Homo sapiens: one gene and its partner. The gene in region 1 interacts genetically with each later gene. Each region holds a gene or a part of one and is shown on either strand. Other genes may lie near its edges.

What was found.
Region 2: of ROBO2 (region 1) and MYCBP2, changing one suppresses a phenotype caused by changing the other (phenotypic suppression), as found in Homo sapiens cells (one study listed by BioGRID).

Annotation. Positions count from the first base shown.
Region 1 is NC_000003.12:77,035,236-77,043,136, reverse strand, and holds the start of ROBO2 (roundabout homolog 2 isoform 23 precursor), read right to left. Parts: upstream 3,039-7,901; 5' UTR 2,352-3,038; coding exon 2,291-2,351; intron 1-2,290. UniProt on the Homo sapiens protein: Receptor for SLIT2, and probably SLIT1, which are thought to act as molecular guidance cue in cellular migration, including axonal navigation at the ventral midline of the neural tube and projection of axons to different regions during neuronal development.
Region 2 is NC_000013.11:77,317,056-77,324,094, forward strand, and holds part of MYCBP2 (E3 ubiquitin-protein ligase MYCBP2), read right to left. Parts: intron 1-7,039. UniProt on the Homo sapiens protein: Atypical E3 ubiquitin-protein ligase which specifically mediates ubiquitination of threonine and serine residues on target proteins, instead of ubiquitinating lysine residues.

The DNA.
Region 1 (7,901 bases):
AGTGCTGAAACAGCCTAGAGGGCAGTGTTCTCCACATCCCAAATTTTCAACCATCCCCGTGGAGAAACTGTCATTCTGAAGTATCCAAAGGCAATCCAATGTCAAACGTATGATTTACATATTAATTTAGTAAGAGTGTCCAGGGTTTCCTTTGCTTTTGACACAGCAGATGCTAAATACAAAACTAGTTTCACACACACAAAAATTTAATATTGCCTTTTCAGTGTCAACTCCTCAATTTTGGCATTTTTCACTACATTACTATGAGTTCTGCTGCATAATTGTGGCCCAGACACAAACTGCCCCCTTATCCTACAATGTTAAATCAGAACAAAGGTTCTAGGTTGTCTTTGGGGGCAGGAGAAGGGTGGTGTGGGAGAGAAGGAAGGAAAGAAGGGAGAGAGGAATAAAACGGAGAGAAAGAAGGGAGGGAGGAATGAAAGGAGGGAGGGAGGGAAGGCAGACAGAAATGGTGTCTTACTACTGCTGCTCCAGCAAGCTGGTTAATTGCATTTGTTTCATATATCTCCAAACACCCTGGTATATTAATTACATTCTGTAACACCAAGCTCTTCTGATTTCCTGTCACTTCCACTGAGCAATTTAATTGTATTCCTCCTAGCAACACACTGATTTAAAAACGCTTATATAAAAAAACCCTTGGTGATAATTTTGTAGTCTAATGTATAGTTTACACATGCATTTCTGTTGAGATATGTAAATTCATGATTTATGAGGACATATTCTTTTAAAAGTTATACCAAATTCTTCTTATCATGAAAATCAAACACACCTGGGACAAATAGGTAAACCTATTTTGTTACGGTAATGTACACGTATTTTAATGTACTGAAAAATAAATGCATGAAAAATAATTAGAGATGTTGCCATAGTATAATTCACAATAATTAAATCTTAAACATCTACTGCTTAGACTGGTAAAAGAGAGAAGCAGTGCACACACACGCATCCCTCCCTCACTATCGCTGGGGGGCAAAGGTACTCATGTAGTCCATGATTGAAAACAGCCACTTGACAGTAGGTAAACTCCTCTGTATTGCCTCATGTTTATAGAAAGCCTTCCTTTTTGAGTCCAATACATTGGGCTCTATGCAGCAGTAGCTGCCAGGAACAAAGTTAGCTACTCAGATGGGCCAAAATAGGCAGTGTCCCAAATAATGAATTCATCCACAATGCAAATGCTGGAGGAAAGTTTATGTGGCAACAAGCTATTGTGATGGCTCAAACAGTTAGACTAATACCCTTTAGGTTCTTTACAAGTACAGAAAGTAACTAAAAACCTAAAGTACTGCAATCCAGTTAGAAAAAAAAAATATCTAGTACTCCCTTATACCAGTTGTTTCCATCGATATAAAAATTAAAGCCTCTAGAAGGTTAACAGCAAATATTCTTTTAACTTTTTTCTTTTGAATACAAACCAAAAAGCATGTTAATGATTATTTCCACTCTTCATTCAAAAGAACCACAAAAAAGGATTTTGCAATAGTCGCACAAGAAATTGACATCCTGTGAAAATATCCCAGTAAACCAAATCGGAACAAAAGACAAGAGAATCAGAGGCAGAATGCTGTGGGCTTGACAGACTGACTCAACCTAGAGGGAGACACCTCCAGCACCTGTTTAAGGTCCCCATTGTGTTTGCCCACTGGGGACTGAGCTAAGTGTTCTACTCCTGTGGCCAGCCCATAGCTGATGCTTCCCCCTTCGTGGAGCCTCGCCCAGTCTCACTTTTGACAGTTTTCTCCCTAGGATCTAAATTCTTCATTCGATTTAACGCTAGGAGAGCATTCACTGGCACACAGGTGATACACATTGATCTCAGTCTCAAATTCCTAACCCACTGAACCTTCCTTAGAGTGTCTATTACTGTATTTCTTCACTTGAATGTCTCAGCCAAAGTTCAGACACAAGAGCAAACATCAAATAGAGAGCAGGCACAATAGTATTAGGCTCTTGCAGGAGATTGACTGTAATATTTCTTTTTCTAACAAAACTGGGAGCCCAATCATTTATTATCCAACTCCTTAATTAGTGAAGTAAATTACAACAATAACAACAATAGGTGACTACCAACACATTCCACTTACAGCAGTTTAGAAACAAAAGACTTAAATAAAACCTCTGCCCCCAAGGAGCCCGTGCCGGGCCAAAACGGACTAACAGACATAATGTCATTTCATTTATAACCCACATCAAATTCAAAAAGAAATGGTTTTGGGGGATTGGGGGGTGGGGGGCGCAAAAAAAGATGAAAGCATTTTTAACTTACCATCAACCCGAACATATAAAAATCCACAGAGCAGTAGTTGTGTAAACATCAGCAGACTCATTTTGACATATTAAAAAGGATCCAGATTCTTTAAGAAACCAATCCCAGAGAGCAAAAGTACAAAAATGAGTATCAAAAAAAGAGGTAGGTCCAAAGTTTAGACTTTCCTAGATACTAATTAAAGTCAAGAAGAGCAAATCGCAAGATCAGAAGGGGTTGGTGGAGAGGTCTCGAACGGGGCACACTGAGATCCATCCAAATTAACAGAGGGTACTTCAAAGGCTGCTGTATTTCCAGCACTCTGGCTTCCTAAATTCCCACAAATTCAGCCCAGCCAGAGGGATTATTCGAGTGTGTCTAACCCTCTCTCCTTAGGCTCCACTGCAATCCAAAGCCAAGTTCTTCCTTCAGAAGTCAAGATGATGAAGGGGGAGGAAAAGACCTAATTCCTAGAAAGTGTTCCACAAACTTGCCAGCGCGCTGCCGAAAAACCATTGGCCTGCCTACTGGTTTTCTTTCCCCCGGTTTCCTTCTCCGTAGCAGCTCCACGTCCGGAGTTATTTTTTAATATGTCTATATTTTTACTTAACTTCCATAATAAGAATGTGTCAAAGCAACACTTTGCAGGCGGGCAGACTTGGCGGGCCTCTCCTTTGCAGCGGTGTTGCCCTCCCTCCACCTCTCCGGTTTCCAAAAGAGAGGAGAAGGGAAATCAGGACGATTCGGGTGGAGAATCCGAACTCCTACGTGGTGAGGGAGGCAGGGAAGGAGCGAGGGAGGGAGGGAGGGAGGGAGGGGCCGGGCGGAGGCCGAGGCTGCAGACACCCCCGCGGTGCCGCCTCTGAGGATAGTGCACCAGGCGGCTGCGGGCGCGAGCAGAGACGGGCGTGAGAGCCCAGCCCGGGCGCGGCGGAGAAAGGGAGCGCTCAGTCCAGCGCCAGGCGCGCTGAGGCCCCTCGCCCGGGTCCAGCCCCCGCAGCCTCGCAGCAGAGCGTCCGCTTCCTCCGGCAGCTGCCGCGGGTGGAAGGACTTCTAGGAGGGAAGGCGAGGAGGCGGGAGGGGAGGGGAGGAATGAGAGCTGCCTGGAGTCGGCCCGGGGAGGGGCGGGGGCGAGGAGGGGCGCGCGGAGCCCTGAACCTCCGGACTCGGCCACCCGCCCGCTGGGGAGTGGGGAGGGGTCCTGGAGAGCCGAGAGTCCCCGGGGGGACGGAGATGAACAAATTCGGAGAGCCCCGCCGGCTGCCGAGGGCCGAGGCCACCGGGCGACTCCTTCCCCTTCTCCGCGCCCCCGGGTGCCCACTCCTTCCCGCCTCGGGAGGGGATAGGTGGGCTCCAGGCTCCTGCTCCTCGCCGCGTCCCGTTTAATGGGCAGGTAATTTTCTCCGTGAGTGATTTCATGGAAGCCCTTCCTAATTATTCATCCCTCCGTCTGCCGGAGCTGCACGCGCTTTCTTGAAAAAGATCAGCCTCCAGGACCCAGGGCGCAGCCTCATTACGCGTTAAAATCACACACTCACTCACTCTTCACCTTTTAGCCAGATGAGAAGCCGAGTAGGAGGAAGGAAAGGAAAGGAAAGGAAATAGAAGCACCTTTTGGACTGGAAAGGTTGTGTGTAGATGCTTCCTATATGATTCAAAAGCACAAGGGGGAGAAAAAGGAGGGGGCAGAATTCTCTAACCTCCAGCGGCTCATTTTAGCCAAGATCTATGGCCCCCTGCGGCATCCCCAAGGGAAGGAGGAAGGGGAGGCAGCCCCTCTTATGTTACTCAGTTGCCTTTTGACCCCTCCACGATGAGTTTGATGCGCGATCGCGCAGGGCGAGGGAGTTCCACAGAAGATGCTAAGGACGGGGAAGCGGGGATCACAGAGCTTGGGGGAGGGGGATCCCCGAAGTCTTTACCCTCCAGGGACCAGCACCTCCAGAAGGAAATTCGGTAAACATAGGCTCTGGGTGTGGAAAGCCGAAAGCCCAGCTGAGCTCATGGAAGCTCAAAAAGAAGCCGAATTTCAGCCCAAAGACGACAAAACTCTGAAAATTAAGACCAAGACTACCAAAGGATGCCATTCAGGACCGGGGATGATGAAGGAAGGTCACGTTAGATCAAAGGGGTGCCGGTGTCGGCGGTGCCCCGGTGCGGCCGGGCCCACGTGTGATCACAGGCTCGCTGGTAGCCGTTTGATGCTTGTTCAGATGATGAGAAGGCGGCTTATAGGAACTCACGCAGGTCCCCGAGCCGAGCTAAATGCTGGATGGTGAGTCTTTAGTTCCCCCTACTGGAAAATATTAGGAAAGGTTCTCTCCAGAAGGGGCCGTCTGAGGAAGAGCCTTTGTTTGGTGGATACGTTTTGGTGCTGCTACTTAACTTAGGTCTCCCTTGCATATTATGGGCGCTGTGTGTTCTTTTAAAAAAAGGTCAGCGACATTCAAGCAATTAGAAGAGACATTAGGACACCTCGGCATGCTTGAAAATTACGGTAATGAAATAGTCTTGCGAAAGAATAAAACAACCACTCTTCTTGTAAAGCATTAAGAGTAATTTCTGCACACTTTTAATCTACAGTATTTACTTGTGAAGAAAAAAGTGCATTCGGTTGTTAAAGTTGAATCACTTGAATTCTCACTATAATAATTCTGAATGTGCTATTGTTTTAGCACCCCGTGAAAAAAGGCTTAACCGTTAAGGAGAAACCCACCCCAAAGGTCCAATACGTCTAAATTGGATAACACTGTGGTTTAGAAACATCCAAAAGTGCGCTATTAACATCTCTTTTATCTCTGGAAAAGGAAAGTAATTAAAATTCTTGAAAACTTTCATTTTAAACACTTGGGCTTGGTTTACCCAGTTCAGGATTACAATGTCTAGCTCATGTCTCCAAATAATACACACCACCAGCTTATCTCGGGCAAATTTCCTTACGCGGGTGAAATTTTTAAGATATTCGGAAAATAGTCTTCCTAATACAATAATGCAGGAATTAACACATCATATAGACTTATAAGACCCTTAATTTTAAGATGGTTCACAGAAAGGAAGACATTGGAGGATTTCAACTAGAAGTGTTTTCTCATGACTATTTATTTATCAGGCAAAATATAGATTCTATTTTATACTTGATAGACTCACCATCTGTAAATGCCTTTCCTTAAGTAAACTATAAAATCACTCAGAGGCAGAAAGAGTGTGTGTGGGAAACAGAAGGGATAGATTGGGCGAGATCAGCCTACCACCAATTGCCATGGTCCTTTAGGGCAGAAAATGTTGCCCTATTCATAGAAAGTTATCCTTGTGTAGGGTATGACAAATTACATCATACAGAGAAGAGCTTTGTATAAGGGAAATCGCTTTGGTTATATTGGCATTTTTTTTACCAAGCATCAACATTTTGCATTCTTAACTACTTTACCTATTAAAAGTGACAAAGCAAGCCAGTGATTTTAGACTGGTGCCATTTTTTAAATGGCTTTTGTTGTTGTGGTTGTTGTTGTTTGCCATACACTAGCTACCTTATGGAATAATGTCTTCACCAAAACATTTTGGAATCCATGTTTTCTGCTTTTCTTGTAGTCAAGTTCATAACTGGTTTTTTAAAAGAATGCTCTGTCAGTGTCTCATTTGATATGAAATGTGACTAAAAAACCATTATTTTATAACAATCTCATCCCAAATGATAGTTTAGGATTATGACCAAACATCTCACACTAAATTAGCAACAGTAACGAGTCGCCAGACAGAAATTTGTTATGGACAACATTAATTCCAAAAGAACAAAGACATTACCTTCTGAGATATATGATAAGATCTATACTAGAAAAATGTGCATATTTCAATTACACTTAAGACAGTTTTAGTGAGCACTGCCTATATAAAAAATGGATTTCTCACTCCAAATGTTTAATTAAAGGAAAGTCTTTAAAATCTGAAGCTTCTAGTAGAAGTTGGAAATTAAATTTTAGCAGTGCTTTAGCAAAAAAAAAAAAAAATTAAGGTTTTCCTTAAGCCAAAAAGAAACAGCAATGGCTTAGAACAATGAAGCCCCATGACCACCACATCAGAGAGCTTAAGATACAGAAAAATCAAATGGGGATCTGGCTTCAATGTCTTTCTAAATATAAATTGTTTTTTTCTTTTCCAAACAAGCAGCTGAATAGATAAATGTAGATGGAAATCTAGGCTTCTTTTATGTAAAACCTGGAAAGGTATTATATATTCAAAATGTGCCTATATATTTTAATACATCTAAAGATTGTAAGAAACTGTCATTATCCCTAATTTGGGTAAGGTTATCCAATGGCCTTCTTTGTGATTGAATTTCTGAGTTGGTATTCCAGCAGAAGTATAAAATAACCATATGAAGGAAATCTGCAGAGTGTAACATATTAAATATTTCTTTTTTCATACCAGATTCCCCAAGGATGTGGTAAAAACTGCAAAACCCTAATCCACTTTTTTACTCTTTTCAACGTGCTCTTGTTATAATTGTAAGGCAGCATATATATAAAAATCAAAGGTTTGATCCATGATAGTAATTTTAACATATACTGCCATGTAGTGAGCACTAACCACGTGTCAGGGAATTCTTCTAGTTTTTAAAAATTCATCATATTGTTAAATTCCTATAAGAGGCTTATGTGGTTGATACTATTCCCATTGTACAGATGAGAAAAATGAAGATTAGATAATCAACCCAAGTTAATGAAAGGCACAATCTTGCTTTAAATCCAGACCTGAATACAAAGTCTATGTTATCAAGAACTTGAGATTGATTTAAGACATCTACCACATTGCAGAAATAGTATAAGAGTATAATATATTACTCTGATCAATTTAAGAAAACCGCAGTGTACCAAAATATACAGAAATATGTAATCAATTTTTCTTCAAAATTTAAGAACCTCTTTAAAGCCATTGCTCAGCTCGAATTTTTCTATATAAGATTGTCTTATTATACTATACAGAAACATCACATTAAATGACACGTATGTGTTATTATCTACAAAAGGACACAGGACAACTAAAGTAAGTGAAGCATTAAAAATCCTGATCACAGAGAGACGGCTCATTTGCCCCTACATGATTTTTTCTTTATTACACTTGACTTTGTTCCAGAAAGGATCTGAGGGAGCCAAGATAAAATGAATATTGTTCTTCTGAAATATGTTCTAAGTATCTGATTTGATTCGATTCATTTTGAAGTGGTCACCAATACTTGTCTCTATATAAGTCTGTCTGTGTAGCTATTTATGAATAGCATTTTTGGTATATTACATGAAGTTATAAATCTGAATTTAAGTTGACTAAAATATAGTAATAGTTCATTTAAAAGAGTTTTCTCTGCAGAATAAAATCACGTATTTTCAAGAAAGAAAATCTTTCTTCCTTTAGAGTCCAAAATCTATTTGGAAAATCATTATTTATCTTGATCGAAGAGTTCGGTGATACTTCCAAATTAACATAACTATTGAATAAACAAATATTACAGTAAGTGGTATGTAACATTGAGGCCAAATTTCTTTAATTGTGTATACCTTAAAATTTTGAATTTTAAAAGTCACTTAGAGGTTCCTTAGAGGTCATGGATGAGATTTTATTTATCTTCATAGTGTCAGTT
Region 2 (7,039 bases), on another chromosome or scaffold:
TCTCCTGACTCAGCCTCCCAATTAGCTGGGATTACAAGCACGCGCCAACATGCCCGGCTAATTGTTTTGTATTTGTAGTACAAACAGGGTCTCACCATGTTGGCTGAGCTGGTTTCGAACTCCTGACTTCACGTGATCCACTCATCTCGGCCTCCCAAAGTGCTGGGATTACAGGCGTGAGCCATCGTGCCCAGCCTGGTGACTTCTTTATTTAGAAAAGGAGCCCCAAATCCTAGTGGCAGCTGTACTTTAAAGTATAACAGGATTCTCATAGCGCCCTCTGTTGGAAATGTTTCTCTTCTGAGAACCAGGATCTTTTAACCCCTTGCCATCAGAGCTATGGAGATGGGAAGCAGAAACTGCCCAGGTGATTCACAGAGTGATGCTATGCGGAGCCACTCCTAATTTCATGTGATCTTCCTACTGGGAACACTGGAGAATGGGCGCCTCACCCTTGCAGGGCATCATGCCCAAGCTGCAGGATCTCATCATCAGCTGTGCCATCAAAGGACTGTTTTACTGCTCTATCAAGTCATCAGCTTCTGGACGGTGTGGTGCAAGATGGGACAAATGATTCTCCTATTCTATAAAAGTGGGTCCCGGCCGGGCGCGGTGGCTCACGCCTGTAATCCCAGCACTTTGGGAGGCTGACGTGGCCGGATCACGAGGTCAGGAGTTCGAGACCATCCTGGTCCACATGGTGAAACCCCGTCTCTACTAAAAACACAAAAATTAGCTGGGCGTGGTGATGTGCACCTGTAGTCCCAGCAACTCAGGAGGCTGAGGTAGGAGAACTGCTTGAACCCGGGAGGCGGAGGTTGCAGTCAGCTGAGATCACGCCATTGCACTCCAGCTTGGGCAACAGAGCAAGACTCCGTCTCAAAACATAACATAACATAACATAACATAACATAACATAACATAACATAACATAACATAACATAACATAACAGTGGGTCCCTTATTCTGAAATGATCCCTGTAGTAGAGGATCAAACATCCTGCAAGCCCTCAAACAGTAGTCCTGGGTGAGACCCTGCTGGAAAGACAAATTCAGACCCAGAATATGTCTCAAATCCAATCAAAATGAATCATGGTCCTTTCCACTGTATAAGGACTGGTTGGCCTGCTTGAAGGATGATTGATCTCTGCTGCTGTCAGGCTGGATATTCAGCAGCAGCAGTTGCTAGATCAGCACTGGTGAATGAAAACCCTTTTATTGGGCCCATGCACAGCCATCATCGGTAATTTTTCCATGCACTCATAGGCCAAAAGAAATACCAAACAGTAGTGTTTATTAAGTAGTTAGATCCAAATAACAAGAATTCATGTCCTAACAAATGAGTAGACATTTGAAAAAATAACACATAAATTGGAAGAAAAATATTTTTATTTCCTTCTTAAAAACTACAAATACTGGGCCAGGCGCAGTGGCTCACGCCTGTAATCCCAGCACTTTGGGAGAACGAGGCAGGCGGATCACGAGGTGAGGAGTTCGAGACCAGCCTGACCAATATGGTGAAACCCCACCTCTAGTAAAAATACAAAAATCAGCCGAGTGTGGTGGGACACGCCTGTAATCCCAACTACTCAGGAGGCTGAGGCAGAAGAATCACTTGAACCTGGCAGGCGGAGGTTGCAGTGAGCCGAGATCGCACCACTGCACTCTGGCCTGGGTGACAGAGCGAGACTCTGCCTCAAAACAAACAAACAAACAAAAACTTCAATTACTTGATAATATGACATGTGTGCCTGTTAGACACAGAACAACTTCTCAAACTTGGAATCAGACTGAACATGCCACCCTCCTTTCCTGTTCCACACTGATTTTTGCACAGTGCTTGATCTGTATCACAACTAGTAAAAATCCAACCCTGCAAAAATATGACATCATCAAAAGAAATGTGGCATGAGCTAATGTCAAAACCGTGAACTACCTCAAGCTAGTAATTTGTGACAGATATTGCTGTGTTTCCTTTAAAATTCTGAAATATCCCATGGTATTCTTTTGTGTCTGTGGTGGTGCTTTGGGGTGCCTTGGTGCAGTTTGGGAACGTGTGTGTGTGTGTGTTTGTGTGTACAGTCCCTTCCTCCCTTCGCAGATCCAGCACCCCGAACTAGGTGTTCTTGTGACTTAACCCTAGTTGTTGGTTTGGTGATAGTCAGTAGGCGAGAGAGGAGGAGCTGGGGGTAAGAGGGACAGCACAGTCTGCAAGCAACCCCTCTAGCTAGTAGAAGAAGGCCACTTCTGCAGGCCCAGAGGGTTAAGAGGAATTTGGGGTTTCAGGGTTTTCAAGTGCACTCAGATGCCCCATCCTAAGGGTCAGGATTCCTGCCCAACCAGAACACTGACCTTAGCATAGCTGAGAGAGAATTCTACCTACCTTGGTGCTCTGCTACCCTTAAAATTAAGTTTTGGGTTGAAGCCTTAGATTTTTCCTCTTACTGTATATGTGTTTCTTTACATGATGCTAAATAAATTTCCTTTTACATTTTGCCCCCAATTATCTTCCACCTTGCATCATCTTTCTCCAATCTATCAATGTTATTTACCAAAAGCCATCTGATGATTGTCCTCATAATTAATTTCTCTGAACTTCTCAAAAGCCTAGTGCACTCACCAGTGCATTCCCTTCAACAGGAATAGCATTCCAACTCACCACCAGTGAAAGTTTTAAGTTGCATAGCTACAGTGCATGCCAAGCGTTATCAGTATTAGTGCTCCATCTAGCACCAGAATCGATTCTCATTGCCAGCCAGCCAGCCAATAATCCAGCTTCAAAACCTCACTGTAAAGTCTACTTTCTGAGACCACTCCTGGCACCAACTGCTTTGGGTAGGAGGGTTCCCAGGAAACAGACTCTCAAATGCAGATGTGCACACCGGAAGTTTATTGCGGAGTGCCCTCCGAACCAACAACTGTGGGGCAGTGAAAGACGTAAGACTGAACAGAGGAAGGAGTTGATCTGCAATGCAGTCCCAGGAAGCCCTCAGCCAGACCCATGGGAGAGCTCTCTGGTGTTGGGATAGACTTCAAGGTTGGCTTGTCTTATAGCAAAAGCGCTAGGCATTTATATCCCTACACTGTATAGATATTAGATGTAAACTGCCCCTGAAGAGGAGGCATGACTCTGGGGGAGGCAACTCTTGGCTCAGGGCAATGCGTGGAGTGGGACTCAGCTGCAATCAGTTTTAGCTGCCAATATTGCCAAGAGCTAGGGGAACATGTGCCTGAAAGCGGGATCTGAAAGCCTAACCACAGCACCTGCCACACCACCACTGGACTATTACACCAATTTGGCTAATGAGGGAAGAGAATTAAGCATTTATGCTGCTGGATTAGGAGAAACTACATTTCACTGACAGTCAGTGAAGGCCAACTCTTCTTTGCAGAAGAGTACCAGCTAATAAACATAGAAGAAATAACAGAATTATTTTTTAATTCATCATTTTGCAACCCCTAATGAAATTATTGACTCAGACAAGGATTATCAAAGAATGCTAAAAGCATTAGGTAAAAGGCATTCACAATGTGCTCAAATTTTTACCCTGTGATTACTTGTTCTTTACAAATGGAAAAAGCATACATTTACAGAGATGAAATCTAGTAGGTACCGTCTTACCCAAGTAATCAGATTTAACATATTAAATAGTGAGACAACCTCACAACCTCTGGATGGGATGCAACATGCAGTACCCAGCGCCATATACAATATTCTTGCTAAAAAATTTTCTAATGAACACCTAATAAACCCTTAAGGTCTAGCTTCCACTTACAGGAAATACAGATACAAGACAGAAAGATGAACAATACCTGGGGGCCCTGCCCTTAAGGAGCTAGATTTATATGACATTCTAGAAAAGGTAAAATATTAGTGACAGAAAACTGATTTGCAGCGGTCAGTAACCAGGGGTAGGAGGGCCTGACAGAACTTTTTATATGAAGTGATGGAAACAGTCTATACTTGACTGTGGTGATAGTTTCAGGACTCTTCAAATGAACATTTAAAGAGGATGAATTTTATTGTATATAAATTAAACCTCAATTAACCTAACCCCTCCTCAGAAAACCTAAATGTTTAATCTGGTTTTTGAGAAAAAAGTGAGACTATTCTGTTGATTTTTTAAACAAATATATTAAAGGACAAAAGTATTTTTAGATTGACATTTTTATTTTCCTTTTAAGCCCAGAGGCAAGATTTTTTTCTTCTCTTGAGTTAGGAAACTAATTCATTTCACATTTCTACCTACCAGTATACCAATAGAGCAGTTTTTGCCTTAACTTGTGTTTATACACTATACAGGATTCCACTGATATAACAGCTACATGAAGAAAATTACTACCTATGCACAAATACAGATGTACACATACAGATTCAATCCCGCATTACTTCCTGACATATTCCTACAATAAATAACGTCTCTTCATAGCTTAAAACCATCAAGGGTGATCAGTGTCTACTGAATAAAATCTAATTCTTACCTTGGTCTTCAAGATGCCCCATCCTAGCCAAAGCCTCCATTTCCAGAATGAATTCCACTACTGTCCTTCATGACACCTGCATTCTAGCTCTAACAGAATTCCTACTGTTACCTACATACAAACTGTGCTTTCCTGTCTCTGCTGATGCTTTTAAGCCAGCCTAGAATGCCATGCCTTTGTCATAGTAGGTTATACTTTCTTGGTCATTTCATTTAACACTTCTATAAGTATCTGCCTTTGTATCTTGCACTTCCAGATAGACAGTAAACTCAAGTCTAGAATTTGTGTCTTATAAATTTTTATAGGGCCAATGGTTAGTGCCAAGTAATAATCCCTGAGCAAGCTGAGCATGGTGGCTCACACCCATAATCCCAGCACTTTGGGAGGTGGAGGTGGGAGGATCACTTAAGCTCAGGAGTTCAAGACCAGCCTGGACAACATGGTGAGACCCTGTGTCTACAAAAAATAAAAAACAAGCCAGGCATGGTGGTGCATGCCTGTAGTCCCAGCTACTGGAGGAGACTGAGGCAGGAAGATCACTTGAGCCCAAGAGGTTGAGGCTGCAGTGAGCTATGTTCACACCATTGCACTCCAGCCTGCCTCAAAATAAGTAAAATAAAATAATCCCTGAACTTTTGCTAAAATGACTACTTAACCTCTTACAACCAAAATCCCATGCATCTGAAGGATGGACTCAAATACCATTTCTAACAAGAAAGAGATAAAGCAGCTGAAAAAACTAAGGGGGTTAAGTTTAGATTCCCCATTTTGGTCACAATCCCCTCTATTGTTTTCACTAACATTGTTCTTCTAGGACTTCAGGACCCAGATACTCTGACTCCTCTTTATCTTCCAGTCTATCAGTTCCCTCTTGGCATCACTTTCCTTTTTACCATATAGTCAAACACTGTCCCCAAAACCTTCCATTTCTTTTTTCTTTAACCCTAAATCAACTCAACTAGGTTTTCTCCATTTCTATTTTGTGTGGAAAAACATACAGTGCCATGCTGGTTGGAATTTTAAATGTGATTTTAATAATAACAACAGGTAACATTTCATGGGCACTTACCAGGTGCGGACATAATGTCCTTTTGATAACACTACAAAGTTACAAGTAAAGAAACAGACAAAGTCTAATTAACTTGCCCAATTTAACACAAGTAGAAAAAGGTAGACGTGAACTAAGGGAGTCTACCTCCAGTGCTCTAACATTTAGCCACTGTGCTATGGTGCCTCCCAAGTGCATGGTTATACCACCATTCACATTCAGAACAGATCATACATTCCTTCATACATTTCCTGTCCAACCCCTTTCCCCAACAGAATGTTCCGATTTTGATTGGCCTCATTCATCCAAAAATATATCTATTCAGTCACTGGATAAATGAAAGAGTTATTCCCACATTCTACACAGTCACTGAGACCAAAAATAAAAGAGTAAGACATGATCCTTGCCTTCTCTTCAAGTCCCCACACCCCTCATTCTCAGCAAAAACAAACAGACAAAAAACAGTAACTAATATTTCATAGCAGTCAACATGCCAAGCACATACATTGATTCATTTAATCTACAAAACAATTCATGTTAGTATTATGATCCCCATTCTACATATTTAAAAAACTGAGGCATAGAAGTTATGTAATATACTCAAAGTTACACAGCTAGCAAATGACAAAACCAGGATGCAAAACCAGTCTAGCTTCTGTGCCCAAGCTCTTAACCACTTTGTTAGACTGTCATCAAAGTCACTGAGTCCATTAGGTTTGAAACTCTCAACTTCTCAACTGTACACCTAAAGCAAAGAGTAATTAATTCATTTGACATTGACTGATAACTCACTCATCATGTTTTTGTTTCTTGAACACAAGCCTGTTCCCATTTCAAGGCCTTTATAAATTCCCAGAACATTCTTCCTCTACATCTGCCTCCTCATCATGGCAATTCAATTTAAATGCCAACTCTCAAAGAGACATTTCCTGACCATGTTACCTAAAATAGCCCCACTACAAATTGCCCTATCACATGAAATAGGTTTTATTGCCTTCACAGTTACTTATTACTAAGTGAAATTATGAGTTGTCTATTTCTCCCATTGGAGTGGATTTTCCAAGACGGCAGAGACTTTGTCTATCTTGCTCACCGCTACATCTTCAGCATCTGCAATACTGCCTGGCACAGAGCAGGCACTTGATGTTTACAGAATTCATGCCAAAAAATGTGCTAGACATTGGGATTATCAAAACGAATAGGATATGATGCCTATCCTCAATAAACTCCCAGTCTTTATATTTACAAGTACTCACCTCCACCCCTTCTATATTAACTGCTCCTTTTTTCAATGGCTAACCTCTCCACCTGTCACCTTAACTCTATCCCTGAGATCCCTTTGACCTCTTCCTGTCCCTGAGATCCCTTTGACCTTTTCCTATCAATTATCCCCTCTCTCACTTCTTCACTCTGTCTCTCCATTTAGCCTCCCATATTTGCATATCCCACCCAACCTCCTATACTTGAATATCCTTCCCTCAACTTTGAAATCCCCTTGAGTTACCAAAA